Homo sapiens: one gene and its partners. The protein of the gene in region 4 interacts with the protein of the main gene of each other region in a pairwise test. Each region holds a gene or a part of one and is shown on either strand. Other genes may lie near its edges.

Region 1 (7,654 bases), on a different chromosome or scaffold from region 4:
GACCAAGCAGGCTCCTTGCTATTGATGCGGCTCTGTGGTGCCAGCTCTAGAAACAAACTACCATTTGTTGCTTTCTAAAAAAAAGCCTTTTAAGCTCCAGACGACATTGGGCCTCTCTCTCCTGAGCTGAAAGGTTGGTTTCTTTGAGGTTTCCAAATGGCAGCTTATGTCTTCTCAGAAGGGCTACAGCCCATTTGTTGGAAGCCAAAAACCTTACCTCAATGGCCCAGGTGAGAGGACATGGCTCAGGGTTGCAGTCTGAGTGTGAAGCACATAAACATCTCCCATAATAGGCTTGGTGGCTGGGCCTGGTGGCTCAAGCCTGTAATCACGGCACTATGGGAGGCCGAGGTGGGTGGATCACCTGAGGTCAGGAGTTCAAGACCGGCCCAGCCAACAAGGTGAAACCCTGTCGCTACTAAAAATACAAAAGAAAAAGAAGAAGAAGAAAAAAAATTTGCTGGGTGTGGTGGTGCACACCTGTCATCCCAGCTACTTGGGAGGCTAAGTCAGGAGAATCACTTGAACCCAGGAGGCGGAGATATCAGTGAGCCAAGATCGTGCCACTGCACTCCAGCTTGGGCAACAGAGCAAGACTCCACCTAAAGAAAAAATAAATAGGCTTGGATATGGCAGAGGGTGAGAGACAAGTAGCTAGGATCTCAAGGAAGAAGGAAAATAGAGATGTAACATGGAGCTGAAAAGAAGGTGCAGGAATTGCTTTAAAAGAAAACAAAGAGACAGAAAGTAAGACGTGTAATTTACAATGTCCTGTAAAGGTTGCCTCTTGCACACATGGACTGAATGCTGTGACTACAGAGGCACTTTTCAAACTAGTACAAGAAGGAACAAGATTGCCCAATGGTGCCATCACTTAGAAAAGAACCCTTTATTTTACCTCCACCTAATTGCTGTGCCTTTGCAGTATAAGAGGGCTTCAAGTCTTGGTTCGGACGGTCAGTATGACTCTGTGCCCTCAGTCTCCCCATCTGAGAAATGAAGATTCCTGTTGTACCTGGGCCAGCTTCATATGACCTGAGCAATCACTCAGGGCCCTGTGTTCAAAGCATTAAACTATGCTTGGTTTAATGCTCTGCTATTATCATCCTGGAATTCTTAATAATCCTTGAACGAGGGGCCCCACATTTTCGTTTTGCACTGGGCAAGTAAATGACGTAGTTAGCCTAGTTAGTACCTATCTCAAAGGGTTGTTGTGAGTATTAATATTTTGGAAACACTTTATTATTTGGCACACCAGTCATCATTCACTTTAATTCCAGCTCCCATAACTGTGTTGAAATACCAAGTGGCTATGACTGTTTTTATTATTCAAATTCCATCATAGTAGAAAGCATTTAAGGAAAACTGCCTCGGTGGAAAAGATTATTTCTCTCCAGACCCCAGATTGATTTTACACTGTTCATCCCTCTTTGAAACATATATTCCTTTTCCCACTTTTCCGTCCTATGAGTTGTTATAGTGCCTCAGAGTTAAGGTATTTGACCTACAAAGCTCTTAGAAAAGTGTGGGGTCCAGAGAGAAAGATAACTGAGCAATTCAGTTTTCTCGCAAGATTCCAAAATTCTTAAAGAGATCAGATTAGGACCAAAATCTTCTGATTTAACAGTGAGGGGCTAAGGGACAAAACAGAGGGAAGCCAGGGAGACGTCCTTCAGACCCTCTCATAGCCCACGACTGCCCGGTCGCATTGTGCTGTCCATCTGCCTTCTAAACATCCTTCCATTGTGGCCGCTTCTCCTCTTCTTTCTGGGTGTACAGCGAGCACATCAGCCCAAGCACAGCCATAAACCCCTGACTGCACTCTCTCCCTCACCACGGCCATCTCCCCAGACCCACTTTTCTTTTTTGAGACGGAGTCTCGCTCTGTCTTGCCCAGGCTGGAGTGCAGTGGTGCAACCTTGGCTCACTGCAGCCTCTGCCTCCCGGGTTCAAGCAATACTCCTGCCTCAGCCTCCCGAGTAGGTGGGACTACAAGCGTGTGCCGCCATACCTGGCTAATATTGTATTTTTAGTAGAGATGGGGTTTCACCGTGTGGGTCAGGCTGGTCTTGAACTCCTGACCTCAGGTGATCCACCCACCTCGGCCTCCCAAAGTGCTGGGATTACAGGCACCAGCCACTGCAGCCGGCCACATGCCATATATTGTTTATCCATTCATCCACTGAGGTTCTTCCATCTGTCAGCTCTTCTAAATAATGCTGCAAGGAATATTGGTGCATAAGTATCTGTTTGAGTCTGTCTCTGCTTTTAGTTATTTGGCACACATACTTCCAGGGCCTGCTTTTGACTCCTCCAGTCCATTTGCACTCAGCAGCCGAGAAGGACTTTTTACCAACACACATCCAATCACATCACTTTTGTACTTACAGTTCTTTGCTGGCTTAAGATAAAAGACGGAAATTCTCACCAAAGTCTCCAGGGCCCTGAGCTCTGGCCTGCCTACCTCCAAGTCCCCTGGCTCTTCCCTTTGCTCTGCTCCAGCTGTCTAGACTTTTCCCCATCCTTCAAGACAGCCATGCTCCTTTTGGATTTCAACATGCTGGTCCCTTTTTCTAAAATGTTCATCCTCCCGCAACACCCGGGTTTTGCTAGTTTTTGCTTGGCCAATTCATCCTCTAGCTTTCTCATCCATCTTGCCTTAAAATGCTCCTGAATATCTCCCTTCCTCCCTCGGGCTCAGCTCCTTCATTCCTCGCTTCTGCTCCCATGGTTCCTGTCTTTCGTGACTGTCCGTTCACGGGGCATTATTTTCCAATGTCTGTCTTCCCTGCTGTAATAGTAACTGTATGCATTCATCCACTGGAGTTGCTTCCATCTTTTGGCCATCATAAATAATGCTGCAATGAATATTGGTGTGTAAGTATGTTTGAGTTTCTGCTTTACCAGGTAAGAAAGCCTGGGGATGCTGTCACAGTGAGTAACAGTGCCCACTTAGACATTTGGAAGCCAGTGCAGACCCACAGGGCAGTGCTGCCCACTCCCAGGACTCGGGAGCATGGCTGCCTCCCTGTGCCAACACTGTCAGTCACTAGCGCAGAACCTGGCACACGTTGGTACCAATTCATATCTAAACTGGATGAATGAACAGACAGAATGGAAAGTACAGGAGGGACCCGAGTTTTGGACAAACATTACTTACCCTGTGGCTCCTAAGTGCTGGGCATCCTTACCCACACTCCCAGCTTCAGTTTCCCTAACCTAGAGAGCGCACACTAATATTTATGTTCAAATGTTATTGGGGAGGTTGAGTTTTTATTTAATATTTGAATGTAGATTTTAAAAATCATTATGCCAGACAGGCTGGGCCTCACTCGATAAACACTGATGTTTAGCATTTAACACACTTTTCCCCAGACTGGAAGAAGAGGCCGAGATCCCAATTCGGTGACCCAGCCCTTGCTGGAGTACTAGGTGGTATCTAATGCCATCCACCCTTCCGGGATCTTTACGGCCCACCTCTGAGTGGGTCCCACGGGGACCCTCAGCCGCATTTTCTTTCTGCAGGCCTCCCTGCACACTCTGGGGCGTTCGCAGCTCTGGAGCCCGCGGGGCAGTGCGTCCGGCCCCGCCCTGGGCCTCATTATCTACGTTTCCGCGTCACGCCCGCCGCGAACTTGGCAGGCCCTCCCGCCGGGTTCGGGAACACTGTGTGCCTAGCGCCCGCCCTCCTCCCTTCCGCCGGCCCCGCGCGATCCATAGGGTTTGGGTCGCTGGGCGCCAGGTACCCGCACCCGGCAAGCAGCCACGGAGCCCCTCGCGCACTTGTCCTCGATACCCTTGAGTTGGGGCTACGCAGGCCACTCCTAGGCCACTGGCTGGGCGTCCGAACGTGGGTCACCCCGCGCACAGTCTAGAGGTTCAGAAAGATGCTGTGGCCCACTTTAAAACAAAGCCCAATTATTAGCGCTCGGCGGCTGTTTGCGCCGGTGCAGTGTCAGATCCCCCAGCGCTGCGGACAACCAGCACCCAAAGGAAGCCGAGCTGGAGCTAAAGATCCCGGCTCCGGAGCCATCTGACCGGTTTTGAGACCTCCAGCTCGTCGCCGTCCTGGCTGCGAGAGCTTGGGCACGGCGCCGGGGCTCAGTCTCCTCTTCTGTGGAATGGCGATAACTGTATGTGCCGGGTGACTGCACGTGGCGCGCGGCGGGTGGCGGGGATGGCAGCGGTGCGATCCCACGCCTCCAGGACCCCACCTTCCTGCGGCCCCCGATCGGCCCCGCCCCGGGGGCGCCCCAGCTGCACGCGCGGCGCTGGCTCCAAAGTGCGTCACGGGCACCGGCCGCGCTCCTTCTGCCGCCAGGGCGAGGCTGGCACCCGGCCAGCGCGGGCAGGGCCACGGGTGCCCGGCTGTTTCCCGGGTGTGGAAGGCGCTCAAGGTGCGCGGCCCGGGGCGCGCTACTGGGGGCGCCCTCCGCGGTGGGCAGCGCGCCAGGGATCGGCCTGGGCAGCCGCGGGGCGCGCGAAGGCTGCGCTTTCCCTACGGCCCCCCTCGCTTCCTCCGGCACGGCGGCAACGGAGATTTCCTCTCGGGGAAACTACGCGGATCCTTTTCGGGGATCCTCGCCCCGCCCCAGTTCTCCGCCCCCTCCCCTTTGCTGGGGCGCCTGGGCTGGCCCGCGCAGGGGAGGAGGCTCTGGCAGCCTGGGCAGGGAGGCGGCGGGGGGCCGCGGAGCCGCTGGCCATCGATTCTCCCCGCCATGTGACGCCGTCCTTAGCCCTGCGACCCCCAGCGCGTCCCGGGCCTGCGCCTCCGCCCCGCCGCGCAGCGCACGATGCTTCTGCCGGGACGCGCACGCCAACCGCCGACGCCCCAGCCCGTGCAGCATCCCGGCCTCCGCCGGCAGGTAGAGCCGCCGGGGCAGCTCCTGCGCCTCTTCTACTGCACTGTCCTGGTCTGCTCCAAAGAGATCTCAGCGCTCACCGACTTCTCTGGTAAGAGCGCCCTCCCTGGCTGTGTGCCCCCGGCACCGCGGAGCGCCCAGGTGAACCCTCGACTGGGGGCAGCCGCACCAGTGGACACGGCGGGGTAGGATTAAAGTTGAGGCGTGCTCACAGACACTTGTCTGGTGTGAGCCCTTGGCATATAGATGGCTGCGAGTGAAGTGGCGACGGGGGACTGCCACTCCCAAGAAGGAAGGGTGTGTAATGTATTCAGAGTTTCTCGCCCTGCTGTTGACCTCGTCAATTTCCTAGCATTAGGGACCTGGTCCTGAGCCACGCTCGTTCTATGGAGGCTCCTTAAACTGAGCCCTGTGCCGCGCCCAGCGCTGTAAAATACACGTGTTGTGGTCGGAGGCGTTGCGCCGCGTTTGTCACCCGCGTAGCCCGTTTGCCCATGTAAGGAGACTAGCCCAGGGGACACTTGACCTCGAGTCCACATTGGCAGGTAGAAAGGGAAGCCCGCGGGGACTGGAGGTCTGGTGGAAAGGCAGTGAGGGATGAGGAGATACTTAGATAAGAGAGAGGAGCCTCTCTGCCAAAGTGTACCAGGGTCCTCCCTCTCCAATTCCAGTTTCCTTCACAGAAAATAATGACTTCCTACTCTCGAATAAACTAGGAGGCTTTTCTTTTTGGGAATCGTGATCCAGGCTCTCGCAGCGGATCTCAGATAGTTCTGAGCTTACAGGTGTGACGCCCCAAAGTGAAAGGGATTTCTAGGTTGACGATAGCCATAGGAGCACATGCTTAAGTTAGCGCTGCAGTTGCTTAAGGTAACACATGTCCTTGCCGCTGAAGCACACCTGGATCTCCCTCTGGCAAGGCTGGAGGCCTTCAGCCTTCCCCAGCCCAGCTTAGGGAGCAGCTCTGAGCCCCATACTCCTCCTTCTCCAGGGATCTTCTGCCAAGTTCAGGCTTTGCACAGTCGGTCCCTATCGGGTCCTCAGTGCAGAGTCTTTTGCAACATAATGGTGGTAAAGGGAGTCCTCCTCAGTCCTGTTTGTGCAGTAGGCTAGTACATAGCAAAGAACAAGGGCAAACCAGAAGTTGAGATGGGGTTCTAGTTTACTTACAGAGAATGTCATTGTTAGTGGAGAGCCCTTAGGTCAGAGGTTCTTTGCTTTGAATATGTAATATCAAGGCAGTATTCCTACCTAGCAAAGGAAGCCAAGATAAGGCCTATTTGGCAAGCCACCCACGGCCCTTAAAATCAAGCATCCCAGGATCAGAACTCTGTGGTAAGAGTTGTGGGGAAATGCATCAGACTTTTCAAGGGCTATTAACTTTTTTTTTTGTACTACTAGAACTTTCTTGGCTGCTAGAAAAGCTCTGTATTAGCTGATTTGAGCTATGGAAAGCAGTTCTGAGTTCAGCCACCATCTAGCTCTGAATTCTAAGGAAATAATTGAAAACTGACAAGCCTTTTTGTGTTTGTGACATCATTGCAACTGAACAAATATTGCTTTAGGCAAATTGCAGTGTAACCATTAGATTGTTTTCACAGATTATAGACACTTAGAGTTCTGTTGCTTTAGGGAAGCAGTTGCAATACTTGTAACAGTCTATAGATTACCACCCAAGTTTGGAATTGTCTGTATCTAGCAACTGTTACATACAGTGGAGTTGAGCTATCAACTCCTTAGTAAAATGAATGATTTGATACATGTTATTCTAAATAGTATAAATGATAAAAGGCATTTTCTTCTGCTTTCCATACGAACCTAAATTCCAGGGTTTCAAACTCCCTGAGCCAGCAGTAGGTGGTGATATTGCCACCCACAACGAGCCCCCATTTTTCCTCTCATCAGTGATGCTCTCCAGAGATCTGAAGATTAGGCAGAACATGTCAGAAGCCTTTTGGGGAGAAGAAAGGAAATATAATGTCCTCCCAAACCACTGATGCACTTAAATTTAAACCTTAATTCTATATCATGTGAGGTCAGGGAAATATTAGAAAAATCTCAGGGAGAAAGAAAGATCATCTTCCAAAGTTGGCTCATTTGACTTGGATTTTAGCCGCCCTCCCTCTGCAAATTCCTAAGCTCCAAAGATGACCATCTTATTGTTCGGTTCAGTGTTTCAGCTGACGCGAACCCCATGTGGCCTCAAAGCTTGCCGCCTGTGTTCCTGGGACAGTCGGTCCTGTTCCTTTTTATGAACTTGAAGGAGTGCATAGAAACCAAAACTGAGGCCTGGAAGGAGACAGTGGATCCTCCCCTGCAGAGCCTGATCACAATAACCAGGGCTAGAGAGCAGTGTTTGACAATGCAGATACTTGCCTGTTTTTCTAAATAAAGGGAACATCAAAAACTAGCAGAGGATAGAGGAAACTTGGGATCCCTCTGCCCTGTGAAGGAGGAGGGAGGATGGTGTATCCATGTGAAAGAAAGTGCCAGAATGTCAGGGGTCCCAGCCATTGTCTGTACAATATAGGCCCCTTTCTCCCCCCAGGAGATTAGCAGTGCAGAGTTTTGGAAAGTTCCTTAAGCCTTTCTCTTCTTTGCGGCTCTTCCTTGAGCCTTTTCCTGGGGCTGTCAGCTGGTGTCGTTTTCCTGGGTCATTGATTTTTTTTTGCCCTCAGGGATTCCAGCATCGATCTCACTCTTAATAAGCCAGAGGCAGCATCATGGCCCCCTCCTCCTCCCTGTCCATGCTCGTGACTTGTTCTAATCACCTCCAAGCTTGCTAGTAAACA
Region 2 (4,097 bases), about 47 Mb from region 4:
AGGCGTCCAGCGGGGAACGTCCTAGAGGCACAGCCTTCCAGTGCGGCTTCCTCTGAGCACACAAGAGCCAGGAGGAGGGATGTGGGAGAACCGCAGCTGGCCAGGGAGAGACTTAAGCAGTTAGGTGATGACTCCCTAAGGGTCACCAAGGGTCTTGTTCATTGGGGCCTGAAGGGCACTGGCTGAATCCACTGTCGGCACTGCCCACAGATCAGGAGAGCCTGTGCATACAGAGAGCCTGCTAGAAAGCCCTGGGTCTAAGGAGAAGCAAGCTCCAGGGAGAACAAGTCAAGGAATGACATAAAATCTTAATCCATGGAAGCCTAGCAGGAGGCTGGACATGGGCTGGAACTCCTGCTTCTCGTTATTAGGAGGAGCTGTTGCTCTCTCCTTTCATTCTCAGAACCAGAGGCAAAGACCCAGCCTCTTCTGCTCTTACTGGTGTGGAAATGCCAACCTGCCTCGTATTAACTGCACCATCTACAAAATCTGAGCTCCAGCCAGTGCTGCTCTAGATTCATCTTTCTTTAGAGAGAATGAATTATTGTAGCCCCTAGCCCTTTCAATGAATTTCAGGGAATTGTGGAAATTCCTTTATTGGGATAATTGTTTAAAAATAATACAGTTCGCGAGCTTCTATTCGGGGTGGAAGGAGATTGATGTGCAGAGCAGCTCCCGCTCATCTGACTTTTCACGGTTCACTGGGAACAATTTCCAAATAGCAAACTCTCTGGCTTCTCTCTCTTTGCAGATGACGGCTGCCCGAAGCCCCCCGAGATTGCACATGGCTATGTGGAGCACTCGGTTCGCTACCAGTGTAAGAACTACTACAAACTGCGCACAGAAGGAGATGGTAAGATGTGGACAACTGTCTCCATGCCCTACATACAACCCCCTTCTCTGACATTTCCATGATGGGTGGTGCTGAGGTGATTCGCCAGAAAGTTCGTTGCTCTCCTTGGAGCCAGGAGATTTAGATTCTAATAAGCGTTTTGTCGCCAGTAGCCATGGCCCTTTGGGCAGACTAACTTTTGTCAGCCTCAAGTTTTCTGTTTTGTTAAGGGGAGGCGATGCCATGCAGCCTACCTCATGTAAATCTCAGAGTCACATTTACATCTCCAGCAGATGTGGGAAAAGAAGGAATGCTGATGATGATGTCACCCTCACCTAGTGAGTCTTGCTGTCCTGGCACTGCTCTAAGGGCTTTATACTTATTTGCTCACTTAGTCCTCACAGTATCCCTCTGAACAGAGTTTATTGTTTTCACTTTGCTGATAAGGAAACTGAGGCACAGACAGGTTGAGTATCTTGCCCAAATTCAGGCAGCCTGTAAGAGGCAGAGTCAGGATTTGAACCCTGAGCCCTCCCTGTACTGCTTGGCTGTGACCGCCATGACCACAGTGTGTTCTGCTGGGCTTAACTGGCATCCAGGCACTTGGCTTCCAGCACAGCACTCTTTCCCTTCCTCCTTCTCATATACTCTCTCCTTTTCCCCTTCCTTTTTGTCCCCTTTTCCTCTTCCTTTTAGTTCTTCTCTTTAAATGCCTTCTCACTCTGCACGGGGTCTAGACTTGACTTCTCCTTTGGCTCACTTCTTGCCTTTTGTTTCAGGAGTGTACACCTTAAACAATGAGAAGCAGTGGATAAATAAGGCTGTTGGAGATAAACTTCCTGAATGTGAAGCAGGTGGGTGCTGAGCACTTAAGAGAGCAGGCAGGCGTCCAGCGGGGAACGTCCTAGAGGCACAGCCTTCCAGTGCGGCTTCCTCTGAGCACACAAGAGCCAGGAGGAGGGATGTGGGAGAACCGCAGCTGGCCAGGGAGAGACTTAAGCAGTTAGGTGATGACTCCCTAAGGGTCACCAAGGGTCTTGTTCATTAGGGCCTGAAGGGCACTGGCTGAATCCATTGTCTACATCGCCCACAGATTAGGAGAGCCTGTGCATACAGAGAGCCTGCTAGAGAGCCCTGGGTCTAAGGAGAAGCAAGCTCCAGGGAGAACAAGTCAAGGAATGACATAAAATCTTAATCCATGGAAGCCTAGCAGGAGGCTGGACATGGGCTGGAACTCCTGCTTCTCGTTATTAGGAGGAGCTGTTGCTCTCTCCTTTCATTCTCAGAACAAGAGGCAAAGGCCCAGCCTCTTCTGCTCTTACTGGTGTGGAAATGCCAACCTGCCTCGTATTAACTGCACCATCTACAAAATCTGAGCTCCAGCCAGTGCTGCTCTAGATTCATCTTTCTTTAGAGAGAATGAATTATTGTAGCCCCTAGCCCTTTCAATGAATTTCAGGGAATTGTGGAAATTCCTTTATTGGGATAATTGTTTAAATATAATACAGTTCACCAGCCAGGGCTCAAAAATCTCAGTATTTCCCACTTCCTTTGTTAGAAAAGTGGGAAATAGAGCTTTTTGTAATGTAAACAATTTAAAAAACAGAATTATTTTAAAACTGCAACTATTGGAAATGAGATCAGCAGGTGGTAAGGGCAAAGCATTTAAATCTTTCTACTTTACGCAGCAGTGACAGCCGCCCATGCTTTCACCCCTTTCTCAGATGGAAAGGCTCTTGCACATTTCCACTCACGAGTGTCTTGCTCTCCTTGACAGTATGTGGGAAGCCCAAGAATCCGGCAAACCCAGTGCAGCGGATCCTGGGTGGACACCTGGATGCCAAAGGCAGCTTTCCCTGGCAGGCTAAGATGGTTTCCCACCATAATCTCACCACAGGTGCCACGCTGATCAATGAACAATGGCTGCTGACCACGGCTAAAAATCTCTTCCTGAACCATTCAGAAAATGCAACAGCGAAAGACATTGCCCCTACTTTAACACTCTATGTGGGGAAAAAGCAGCTTGTAGAGATTGAGAAGGTTGTTCTACACCCTAACTACTCCCAGGTAGATATTGGGCTCATCAAACTCAAACAGAAGGTGTCTGTTAATGAGAGAGTGATGCCCATCTGCCTACCTTCAAAGGATTATGCAGAAGTAGGGCGTGTGGGTTATGTTTCTGGCTGGGGGCGAAATGCCAATTTTAAATTTACTGACCATCTGAAGTATGTCATGCTGCCTGTGGCTGACCAAGACCAATGCATAAGGCATTATGAAGGCAGCACAGTCCCCGAAAAGAAGACACCGAAGAGCCCTGTAGGGGTGCAGCCCATACTGAATGAACACACCTTCTGTGCTGGCATGTCTAAGTACCAAGAAGACACCTGCTATGGCGATGCGGGCAGTGCCTTTGCCGTTCACGACCTGGAGGAGGACACCTGGTATGCGACTGGGATCTTAAGCTTTGATAAGAGCTGTGCTGTGGCTGAGTATGGTGTGTATGTGAAGGTGACTTCCATCCAGGACTGGGTTCAGAAGACCATAGCTGAGAACTAATGCAAGGCTGGCCGGAAGCCCTTGCCTGAAAGCAAGATTTCAGCCTGGAAGAGGGCAAAGTGGACGGGAGTGGACAGGAGTGGATGCGATAAGATGTGGTTTGAAGCTGATGGGTGCCAGCCCTGCATTGCTGAGTCAATCAATAAAGAGCTTTCTTTTGACCCATTTCTGTGTTGTGTTCAGTCTTGAGTCTTTTTTATTTGCTCCTTTATGGTCCAGGGTAGTCAGAAGGTATAGAGTCTACTGGGAGTATGGCAGAAAACACCCTAAACCCACTGGAAATCCCGAAGGTGATACAAACTCTTCCACCTTAGGGAATCATGCTCACTGATTGAGTGCCTATTGAATGCTAGGTCCCAGAAAGTTAACTGTTGTCCTTGTTTTACAGACAAGGAAACAGAGACTCAGAGATGGTAAGTGAGTTGCTTAAGGTTACATAGCTATGAAACAGGGAAGCAGAACTTTGAACCCAGGTCTGTTTGATACAAACTCAGAGGTCCTTTCACTGCATGCTGTTGCCTCCTCAAAGTGAATTAGGAGAAAAGGCATGGGCCTGGTTGAGGAAGAGGCTAGCTCAAAATGGGATGGGGAAAAAGTGTTTTAACACAGACAGTACTTCAGAGTTTGGGATCTAACCTACCAGCACTCCAGAAAACAAAAGACAATGATGTAAAGGCAGGATCTCTGGACTTACTGAGTCCAAATCACA
Region 3 (7,046 bases), on a different chromosome or scaffold from region 4:
CTAAGGAGGAATACTCAGCCCTAACGTTTACTGAGCACTTGGTATGTTCCAACATCCTTGCTAGGTGCTTTGCAGGGACTGCTTCATTTAATCTACAATGAAGTTTTGAGGTGGGCACTCCACTCTCGTCATCCCCATTTACCAGGTGGGGACTCTGAGGCTCAGTCATATGACCGTGTTAACTCATGGTGGACCCTGATTAGAGCCAATGGAATGTGAACCCAGAGCTTGTGATTGGAACTGCATGTCATAGGAATCTAAGTAACTCTAAGACATTTACACAAATTTAGGATAGATTTTTCTGCTTAGACTGATTTGCTTATCTAGGAGAACACTGGATTAAGCCTGTTTTCTGAAGTGGTATCTGTGGATTACTTATTCATTGTTATGAAGATACTGACTTTGAAGAAAGACTACCCAGGCCTAGTTTCCTGGGTAAGTAAGTCAGTCCCTTCCCTGACAAATATCAGTTTTATTTCTACTCCATGCCCAGCCTTGTGCTGGAGACCATACCAAACACAGAAGAAACAATATGTAAACTCCATTTTTAAAATTAACACAATAATCTTTACTAGAAAAGAGGATAAAAATGAAAGACAATATAATTATTAAGTAGTGTAGTATAACCTATACATGCTTTGGGAGTTCAGGTAGAAAAAAATGGTATCTAGAGCAGTGAGGGAAGGATGTTTCTGATCTGCCTTTTTTTCAAAAGAGGATAGATTTCATATTCCAGTAATCAAGTGTTGGAGCTGCCTTCAGAACTTAGAGGGAACAGGCTGGGTAGTACTTACTAGCATGAGAGTAAGCAACAAACATTTAGTGCAAATGTCAGGAAAATATTCTCAATGGGGAGGAAAAAATATATAAATTTTCAAGAGATGTGGAAAGGTAGAAAACTCCAGAATTTTGGTCTTTTTAGAGATTTAAAAGAGATTTAGTCTTTTTAGAGACTTAAAAAAAACTTTTCACTTTGAAATAATTCCAGATGCATAAAAGTTTGCAAAACAATGTACAAAAAGTTTCCAAAACATGTGAGTCTTTTACAATTGTAAAAAAAAACATATAATGCAAATAACTCTTTTAAATTATCTCTTGGCACCTCTTGTAATCCTTAATCCAAATGACTTCTGTTGATGGGAGAAAGCACCATTGCCAGTTTCTTGATAAAAGGGACCAAATAACTAGAACCATGTCTTCTTAGGAAAAGCAAGAAGTCTTGGCAGATGTGCATCTGGCATATGGCTCCTGAGACACTGACAGGTCCTGAGCTACTCAATTCTCCCCAGCCGGGTTTGTATTGCACCTGAGGTTACCAGCATCTGCTCAGCCTTGGCACAGAAGTCTTGCCTGTTCCTCCTTGGGCTCTGCCTCCTAAACACCTACCTTGTTATAATCACTCATGAGTTCAACCAAGTTAGTCCAGCGCTGCCTTGCTACTCACAGTGAAGTCCTCTGACCTGCGGCATCAGCACCACGTGGGAGCTTGTTAGAAATGTGGAATGTCTGGCCAGACCTCAGACCTACTGCAGCAGACTGCATTGTAACAGGATCCCCGGGTGATTCATATGCACATTACAGTTTGGGAGGCACTGCTCTAAAGAAAAAGCAAAAACAAATGAAAAAGCAAAAATGAAAAAAATGAACAAACAAGAAATCTTGCACTATTTTCCGCAGTGCTTTACTACTTCCTTATATTTGTATCTAGTTGCTAAAGCGTAAGTCCACAAAAGATCGACATTATATCAAAAAGATGTTGGTTTAACTCAGGAAGCTGCAATATTTCACCATTTGTGCTATGCAATCTTTCAATGAGTTAGTTCTCCACTGTAAGAAAAATGCTTACTTCTTGGTTTTATGCATAACAATGGTACAAACAGACTACCATTAAACAGAAATTGTGGCTCTTTTCTCCTGCAAAATTCTTGACTAATGCTACTCAACCTATGATTATGAAAGGGAATCCTGTTTTCATGACTTGAATACAAGTCTTTAGAAAAAGAGATGAGAGATTTAGCTATCCATGTTCTAGCTCTAACACTTAAATAACCTCTGCCATGTTGGGCAGTAGAAAAAAGTAATTAATATAAAACAGTAGTGTTACTAATTAGTGACATTAGTAAGCATTTACTAATGCTTACTAATTGCCAGGCACTACTGATAAAATAGCAATAATAACAATTATTATTTATTGACCATTTTTACTATTTATACAGCATGCTGCTAAGTATTTGTGTTTTGTATGATCCTCCTCTATAATCCTGAAAGTGTTGATATTATTACCTGCATTTTATAGTTGAGGAAACTGATTGTGAGGTTAAGAAATTTGCTCATGGCCATACACGCAGCAAGCAGTTCTACGTTCACCCATAGTATGTAACTCCAGGGTTCTTGATCACTGCTAAACACGTAACCTCTTAGGACTCAGTTCATTGAAATAAATGAGAAGATTGATGAATTTTTTCCAACTCCAAAATTCACTGGAATTGCACAATCCCTCTTTATATAAGAATGCTAGCAAGCTGTTTAGCATTATACTGAGAAATTGGAACCTTACATTTCGGGTAATAAAACAAATGAAACTCCACCATGAAAATCACAATCAGACATAGTCCAAGAAGTTGCTTGCTGGATTTGAGAGATCTAAGGCAGCTGGTATCTTTTAGTTCAATTTTAAAGGGGCATTATTGCAACTATCCAGTCCCCTCTCATTGTTCTTGTAATATCTCTTTCTATTTATGGTGCCTCTCAGTTTTGTTGAGAATTCCTTTAGAGCCAGAGCCAAGTCTAAACTCTAGATTATGTCTGACATGCTTCACAGGCTAAGAGTCTGTAATGTAATTCTTTAAAATGCTAGTCTCTTCAGAGGTTTCATTGGCAGCATTCATTGGATTAGAGTTGACGTTTTTAATCTCGTGGCCCTTCTTTGCATTTGACTTGGAAAACAATCTCTTATTCCATGGCCTCTATTACGACCATTCTTGGAAAGCAAAGAGTACTCTACATTATTCCTCCAGCTTATTCTTTTTTTGTTTTGAGGTTCGAAGTAAAACACAATCCTTATTTATTTATTCAGTTATTTATGAGTACTTACCATGCTTCTGGCTCAGGAGTACATCCTAAGGCCAAGTGTGATCATTTGTTGAATTTCATGGTAAAATACAGGATTTGAGGCATAGCATTTGTACACAGGCTATGGCCACTTTTATGGTAAGGCAGTGTATTGAATATTACCTTTGATCTTCAGGAAGATGTTCTGACAGAAGTATGATTGACTAGAAAGTGTAGATTGTTAGTATTTCAAAGGTTTCAGAGACTAGAATTGGCATTTTCTTAGTTAGATTCCTAGACCTAAGAGTCGGCAGGTTTTAATGTATTTCCTTGATGCCTAGGAGAAGCAAGACCTTTCTGTCCATTGTTGACAATGCCATTTCAGTACTGTATGGTGAGGGATTTGTTTCCACTGAGAAGGAAATGCATAAAATAATCTATGAAGCATTCCTTATTTCTTAACTGCTATGGTATACCAGAGTAAAACATCTTCTAGTCTTTCTCTTTTTCAGGAGATAGTAGCGAGTTACTCCTCAAGGAAGGGTAAAACAATATACTCTTTAAAATTATAATGACATGAGTTCATTTTAATATTCTAAGAAGGATTCGTTGAGCTATGTCAATTCATACAGGACTTGAAAGTGTTATGCTTAATTAGGAGATGGGTTTATTTTTAGAGAAATAGGAGATGGATATGACTCATTTCCATTTAAGCAAGGGTTGGCGGAATAATTATAGTGAAGTTGTGAAGAAACAAAGACTGAGATGTTAATTGTACTGTGAGTTGCTGCTCTGTAACCTTAGTGAAAGAATAAATGCACTTAGCTTAAGACACAGAAGACAGTAGCCCATAATTTGGAACACAGCCTTCATTTGTCAGTGCTGGCTACTTAAAATAAGAAGGAATATTCACTACTACTGTAATGTTGGATTACTTAGTCAAGCAAATGAGGTTCTTGTAGATTTAGTAGTGAGACAGAAAAACCATCTTCAGTTCTTCTAATCCTTTTTCTTTTCTATGCGTTGTAACCACAAAGTTTCCATGGGGAGTAAGGAATGTTCAGCTTTCCTAGATATGATGGATCTTAAACCTGAGTTCTTAGAGAATTGGATTTGGGAGCTTTTGTTACAGTGACAGGTCAGGGAAGACATCTACTCAAATGATTTGGGAAATACACGTGGGCTACTCATGAGAATCAGAAAGAACACACTGAAGGAGTATAGATGAACTCATCAATCTGGTACATCCTATAGTTTAGAGAAAAGTGCCATCTTGCTTGTAGTTAACTCTTGAGAAGCCTAACCTCAGGGTCACACAAGGACACACTTCATCACAGGGATTTTTTTTTTTTTTTTTTTTTTTTTTAATGTCCAAACGATAACTTACTCTCTTGGATAAGCTCAGGACGCACAAGGATTGTACACACCAACTCTGTTTCAAGTACTTTAGGTACTTTCCCTCATTTAGTAAACAGACACTTGTTGCATGGCTACTATGTGTCATCTGAAAAGACACCATCCTTACTCTCAAGTTACTCATCATTCAGGAGCAGAAACAGGCATAGATACAGGAAGTGTCATGAACTTTGTTACACCGTTACAGTAAATCCCATGGAGGGGCATCAAGGAGGTCCATGCAATTGCCAAAGAGGGTAGGGGGGAGGGGAAAGCTTCCTGAAAGAGGAGATACTCTGAGTCTTCAAAAATACATTTCTATAGTATTCAGAAAAAAGAAATTAAAACTCTATACATTGTAGATTAAAGATGTTGCCTTGGTAGCCCAGGTGTTGCCTTTAGTTTGGCAAAAGTGCTGTTGTTTGGAGCAAGTTTTTTTTACATGGTTAGTTGTTTTGGACACCAAATTCTTTTTTTTTTTTTTTTTTCAATGGAGTTTTGCTCTTGTTGCCGGGTGGGAGTGTAATGGCGAGATCTCGGCTCACTGCAACCTCTGCCTCCCAGGCTCAAGCGATTCTTCTGCCTCAGCCTCCCAAGTAGCTGGGATTACAGGCATGTACCACCACACCTGGCTAATTTTGTATTTTTAGTAGAGATGGAATTTCACTATGTTTGTCAGGCTGCTCTTGAACTCCTGACCTTGGGTGGTCCGCCTGCCTCGGCCTCTCAAATTGCTGGAATTACAGGCGTGAGCCACCGAGCCCAGCCCTGGAAGCCAAATTCTTTGTCTCCTGTATTCCAAGCCAAAAGGACATGCTTTTTGTTTGAATTGATAGGAATCCTAAATTATTGACATTAGGATAAATGCTCATTGGAAATCTATTCAAATTTTGCATTGTTTTCAAAGAGGAAAGGCTGGGGTGAGGGGTGGTGGGGAGAAATCTACATTTTCTGCCACAGCTTTATTGTGCTTTTGAATTCCCCATGTGCCATCTTCATACCCAGGATATGTTTTAACCATAATTCATTGCCTATGAAGCTAACATGAAGACGAGAGGGCAAGTTGAAATTTAAAACATGATGCCTTTGTCAGTGGGAGTCTAATTTTGGCTGGTCTATTATAGAATGCAGTTAGTCAATATGTATTCAAATATGGAATGCATATTTTCTTTGTCCCCAAAATGCTCTTTTTCGGCATTTAGTGGGAATGTAAAATATTTTAGGAATTTTTATAATGACAAAGAATTGGGGACAAATTAATTATACGATAATAAGAGGCTCTTTAAAAGTATGATATATACATACAATAGAATACTTGGCAGTCATCATCTTTAGGATAGACAGCCACATTTATCAACAGAGAAAAATGTCCATAGCATTATGTTAAATGTCAGTGAACAAAGCAGGTTACAAAAGAACATGTGGAGAATAATCTCATGAAGGTAAAATTGTAATCACGTGTGTGTGTGTGACATCTATGTTCGTTTAGATAGATTAAAAAATACCCAGAAGAATATTGAACAAATTATTAGTATAATTATCTCTACATGGTGAGGTTTCAGGTGATTCTAATATCCATCTGTTACTTTTTTGTATTTTAATTTTTGCGGTAACATTGTATTAGTTTGGCAAAAACTGCTGATTTCAAAAGAATTTTGTTTTCAAAAGAAAAAAATTAAAGTGTAATTTACTTGGTATTTACCTAAAAGCGTAGTTTTTCTTTTAGGAATACATAACCCCAAATGAAAAAGGCTTAACTGATGTCAAAGTTATCTAGAAATACAGCCAAGCAGGGTCAGAGTTGATGTGAACTGGATTCAGCCTTGATTCAAGCCTGGTCTCTTTGGGATTTCTTGTTCTTCTGCTGCCTTGGCCTGAACAGTCCCTCTCCTCCCTAATTTTTCCTTTATTCTGTGTCTCTCAACCTGCCCTGCCCTGCCCTGGCAAGCTTTGGGTGAAAGGAAGTGAGAGCCTACAGGTCCTGGCCGGGTTGCCAGTTTGGGGAGGGTGGGAAGTTGGAGAAGTGGTCACTCGCTCTATGAAGAATAGAACTCTCTAGAATCAAGCAGAACCATAGTTTTAAAGTGATTTTTTGGACATGAGACACCCACATAAGCCAAAGTGTTGACTTTTTTGTCTTCTCCATCTCATGCTTGTTTCTGTCCTCGCCATCCAGGGTGATGAGGGTGCTTAGAGAAGCATCTTCTCTCTCTCTCTCTTTTTTTTTTTTTTGGCTTTTTGGCAGAAGAGAATTCCCTCCCACGTGACAACTGCTTGAACATCAGCTGCACCAATTTTTTTCTTAGCATTGCACACGTTTATTGCATAAATGCAAAGCAACTGTGGCATCTGAAGATTTACTCCCCAGCTAAGCAGCATCCATGAGACCTGTTTGGGTGCAAAAATGATTTGGACGCTGGGTAACAAAGGTCTAGAGAAGCATCTTCTCTAAGCACAGGAGGAGGCTGAAGACCAGGAGTCTGGTCTCAGCTTGGCCAATTAGCAGCATCGCCTTAGTCTTTCTCCTCATTTGTAAAAAGAGGGGTTTACACTGAAAAAGTGTGTACAAGTTTTCTAACTTACACTATTGTATTTAACAG
Region 4 (2,844 bases):
TTGGGAGAAGGATTTTCTTCAGTTTTATCCATGCTTGTGCTTTTTATATTAATTATGAATGCTGATCTAGGGAAGTAGGCTGGTTTTATGTAGTCTTTTGTTGTCTTTGAAGAAGGGAATTGCCAAAGACAAGGTTGTAAATAGATTTTGGGGGTGAGCCACATTTGTGTTGATACAATCATAATCTTAAATTGTGTGTCTTCCTTAGGGCAGAATAAGTTTTTTGTTTTTTTTAATGTTAAAAGGACATTTGTGTTTAAGTTAGCATTTTTATATTTATCAGTGTTTTATAATTAATAGTAAATTCTTCATTAATTAAAAATATTTTGTTATTCTTTTTAGTACGAGCTCAACTGGAGGCAGTCCTGTGCGGAAATCTGAAGAAAAAACAGATACAAAGCGAACTGTGATTAAAACGATGGAAGAATATAATAATGACAATACCGCGCCAGCTGAAGATGTTATCATTATGATTCAGGTTCCTCAATCCAAATGGGATAAAGATGACTTTGAATCTGAAGAAGAAGATGTTAAATCCACACAGCCTATATCAAGTGTAGGAAAACCTGCTAGTGTTATAAAAAATGTTAGTACAAAGCCATCAAATATAGTCAAGTATCCTGAGAAAGAAAGTGAGCCATCCGAGAAAATTCAGAAATTCACCAAGGACGTGAGCCATGAAATCATACAACATGAGGTTAAAAGTTCAAAAAACTCTGCATCTAGTGAAAAAGGGAAAACCAAAGATCGAGATTATTCAGTGTTGGAAAAGGAGAACCCTGAAAAGAGGAAGAACAGCACTCAGCCAGAGAAAGAGAGTAATTTGGACCGTCTGAATGAACAAGGAAATTTTAAAAGTCTGTCTCAATCTTCCAAAGAGGCTAGAACGTCAGATAAACATGATTCCACTCGTGCTTCCTCAAATAAAGACTTCACTCCCAATAGAGACAAAAAAACTGACTATGACACCAGAGAGTATTCAAGTTCCAAACGTAGAGATGAAAAGAATGAATTAACAAGACGAAAAGACTCTCCTTCTCGGAATAAAGATTCTGCATCTGGACAGAAAAATAAACCAAGGGAAGAGAGAGATTTGCCTAAAAAAGGAACAGGAGATTCCAAAAAAAGTAATTCTAGTCCCTCAAGAGACAGAAAACCTCATGATCACAAAGCCACTTATGATACTAAACGGCCAAATGAAGAGACAAAATCTGTAGATAAAAATCCTTGTAAGGATCGTGAGAAGCATGTATTAGAAGCAAGGAACAATAAAGAGTCAAGTGGCAATAAACTACTTTATATACTTAACCCACCAGAGACACAGGTTGAAAAAGAGCAAATTACTGGGCAAATTGACAAGAGTACTGTCAAGCCTAAACCCCAGTTAAGTCATTCCTCTAGACTTTCCTCTGACTTAACTAGAGAAACTGATGAAGCTGCTTTTGAACCAGACTATAATGAAAGTGACAGTGAAAGTAATGTTTCTGTAAAAGAAGAGGAATCTTCAGGAAACATTTCTAAGGACCTGAAAGATAAAATAGTGGAGAAAGCAAAAGAGAGCCTGGACACAGCAGCAGTTGTCCAGGTGGGCATAAGCAGGAATCAGAGCCACAGCAGCCCCAGCGTCAGCCCCAGCAGAAGCCACAGTCCTTCTGGAAGCCAGACCCGAAGCCACAGTAGCAGTGCCAGCTCAGCAGAAAGTCAGGACAGCAAGAAGAAGAAGAAAAAGAAGGAAAAGAAAAAACACAAGAAACATAAAAAGCATAAGAAGCATAAGAAACATGCAGGCACTGAAGTGGAATTGGAAAAAAGCCAAAAACACAAACACAAGAAAAAGAAGTCAAAGAAGAACAAAGATAAAGAGAAGGAGAAGGAGAAAGATGACCAAAAAGTGAAATCTGTCACTGTGTAAAAAGACAGATTTTTTAAATTGACTTAATTACTAAGTCATCTGTATTAAATTTTGTTATAATGTAAAGAGATTCAAGCCTTGTAAATAATGACATGGAAGACCCTGTGCTGCACTTAAAATATTGCTGCTTGATTATTTGATTTTTACATCAGAGCTTTATAACACGAACTTTTGTACAGAATTGTGAGTTGTGACCATGTAACATGAGAGGTTTTGCTAGGGCCTATTATTTTTAACCACCATTAATTAGTTGGGGTGGAGTTTACTGTAATGTGAAATTTTCACATTTGAATTTTTTAATTGCCTGGCAAAAGCTGATATAAGTTCTAAAATATCAGCAGAATGATTTGCTGAATTCATTACAACCCTGTTATGTCACTTTTTGATTACAATAAAAGTTTTCAGTAAACTTTTCAAATGTTGAGTATTTGCATTATTTACAGAAAGTAGTGCCATATCTGTATACTTAACCCACCAGATGCAGGTTGTATGTGTGTCTCCATTTTCCTATTTTAAAATTCTTAGTTTTTAATACAAGCTGAACTGAATATACAGAATTCTAAATTAAACATGGAAGATACATTTCATAGGTGGGCAGGTGGTAGAGGCCAGAAATGAATCAGGATTAATTGGAGATGTGGTTAAATAAATCTAGGAGAGTCTTGAATTACATAGAAATTCGAAGTTTGAACTTTCAAAATGGTTTGGATTTGAATATTAGAGATGCAGAATTGTGACTCGTTTATGGCCACGTATTTTTCTGGAAACCCTGATAAATAAGTATTAAATTCCTTGATAAAGGAGAATGCAGCTAAACCAGTGAGTGCTTGTGGCCTACCCAATCTGCCCAGTTGACAAGCAAGCGGTCATTACTTACGATGAGTTTCCTTTATTGCTGTGGTTCGGGAAGTGTACCTGGGGACAGTGAAAAG

Evidence for each region.
Region 1: the proteins of RBBP6 (region 4) and EVA1C interact in a two-hybrid assay, tested with the Homo sapiens proteins (one study listed by BioGRID).
Region 2: the proteins of RBBP6 (region 4) and HP interact in a two-hybrid assay, tested with the Homo sapiens proteins (one study listed by BioGRID and IntAct).
Region 3: the proteins of RBBP6 (region 4) and ETS1 interact in a two-hybrid assay, tested with the Homo sapiens proteins (one study listed by BioGRID).

What each region holds. Positions count from the first base shown.
Region 1 is NC_000021.9:32,408,061-32,415,714, forward strand, and holds the start of EVA1C (protein eva-1 homolog C isoform 1 precursor), read left to right. Parts: upstream 1-4,645; 5' UTR 4,646-4,793; coding exon 4,794-4,953; intron 4,954-7,654. UniProt on the Homo sapiens protein: Binds heparin.
Region 2 is NC_000016.10:72,057,503-72,061,599, forward strand, and holds the end of HP (haptoglobin isoform 1 preproprotein), read left to right. Parts: intron 1-751; coding exon 752-853; intron 854-1,611; coding exon 1,612-1,686; intron 1,687-2,609; coding exon 2,610-3,388; 3' UTR 3,389-3,553; downstream 3,554-4,097. UniProt on the Homo sapiens protein: As a result of hemolysis, hemoglobin is found to accumulate in the kidney and is secreted in the urine. Haptoglobin captures, and combines with free plasma hemoglobin to allow hepatic recycling of heme iron and to prevent kidney damage.
Region 3 is NC_000011.10:128,577,548-128,584,593, reverse strand, and holds part of ETS1 (protein C-ets-1), read left to right. Parts: exon of another isoform or gene 1-1,597; intron 1,598-7,046. UniProt on the Homo sapiens protein: Transcription factor. Directly controls the expression of cytokine and chemokine genes in a wide variety of different cellular contexts. May control the differentiation, survival and proliferation of lymphoid cells.
Region 4 is NC_000016.10:24,570,534-24,573,377, forward strand, and holds the end of RBBP6 (E3 ubiquitin-protein ligase RBBP6), read left to right. Parts: intron 1-342; coding exon 343-1,912; 3' UTR 1,913-2,330; downstream 2,331-2,844. UniProt on the Homo sapiens protein: E3 ubiquitin-protein ligase which promotes ubiquitination of YBX1, leading to its degradation by the proteasome.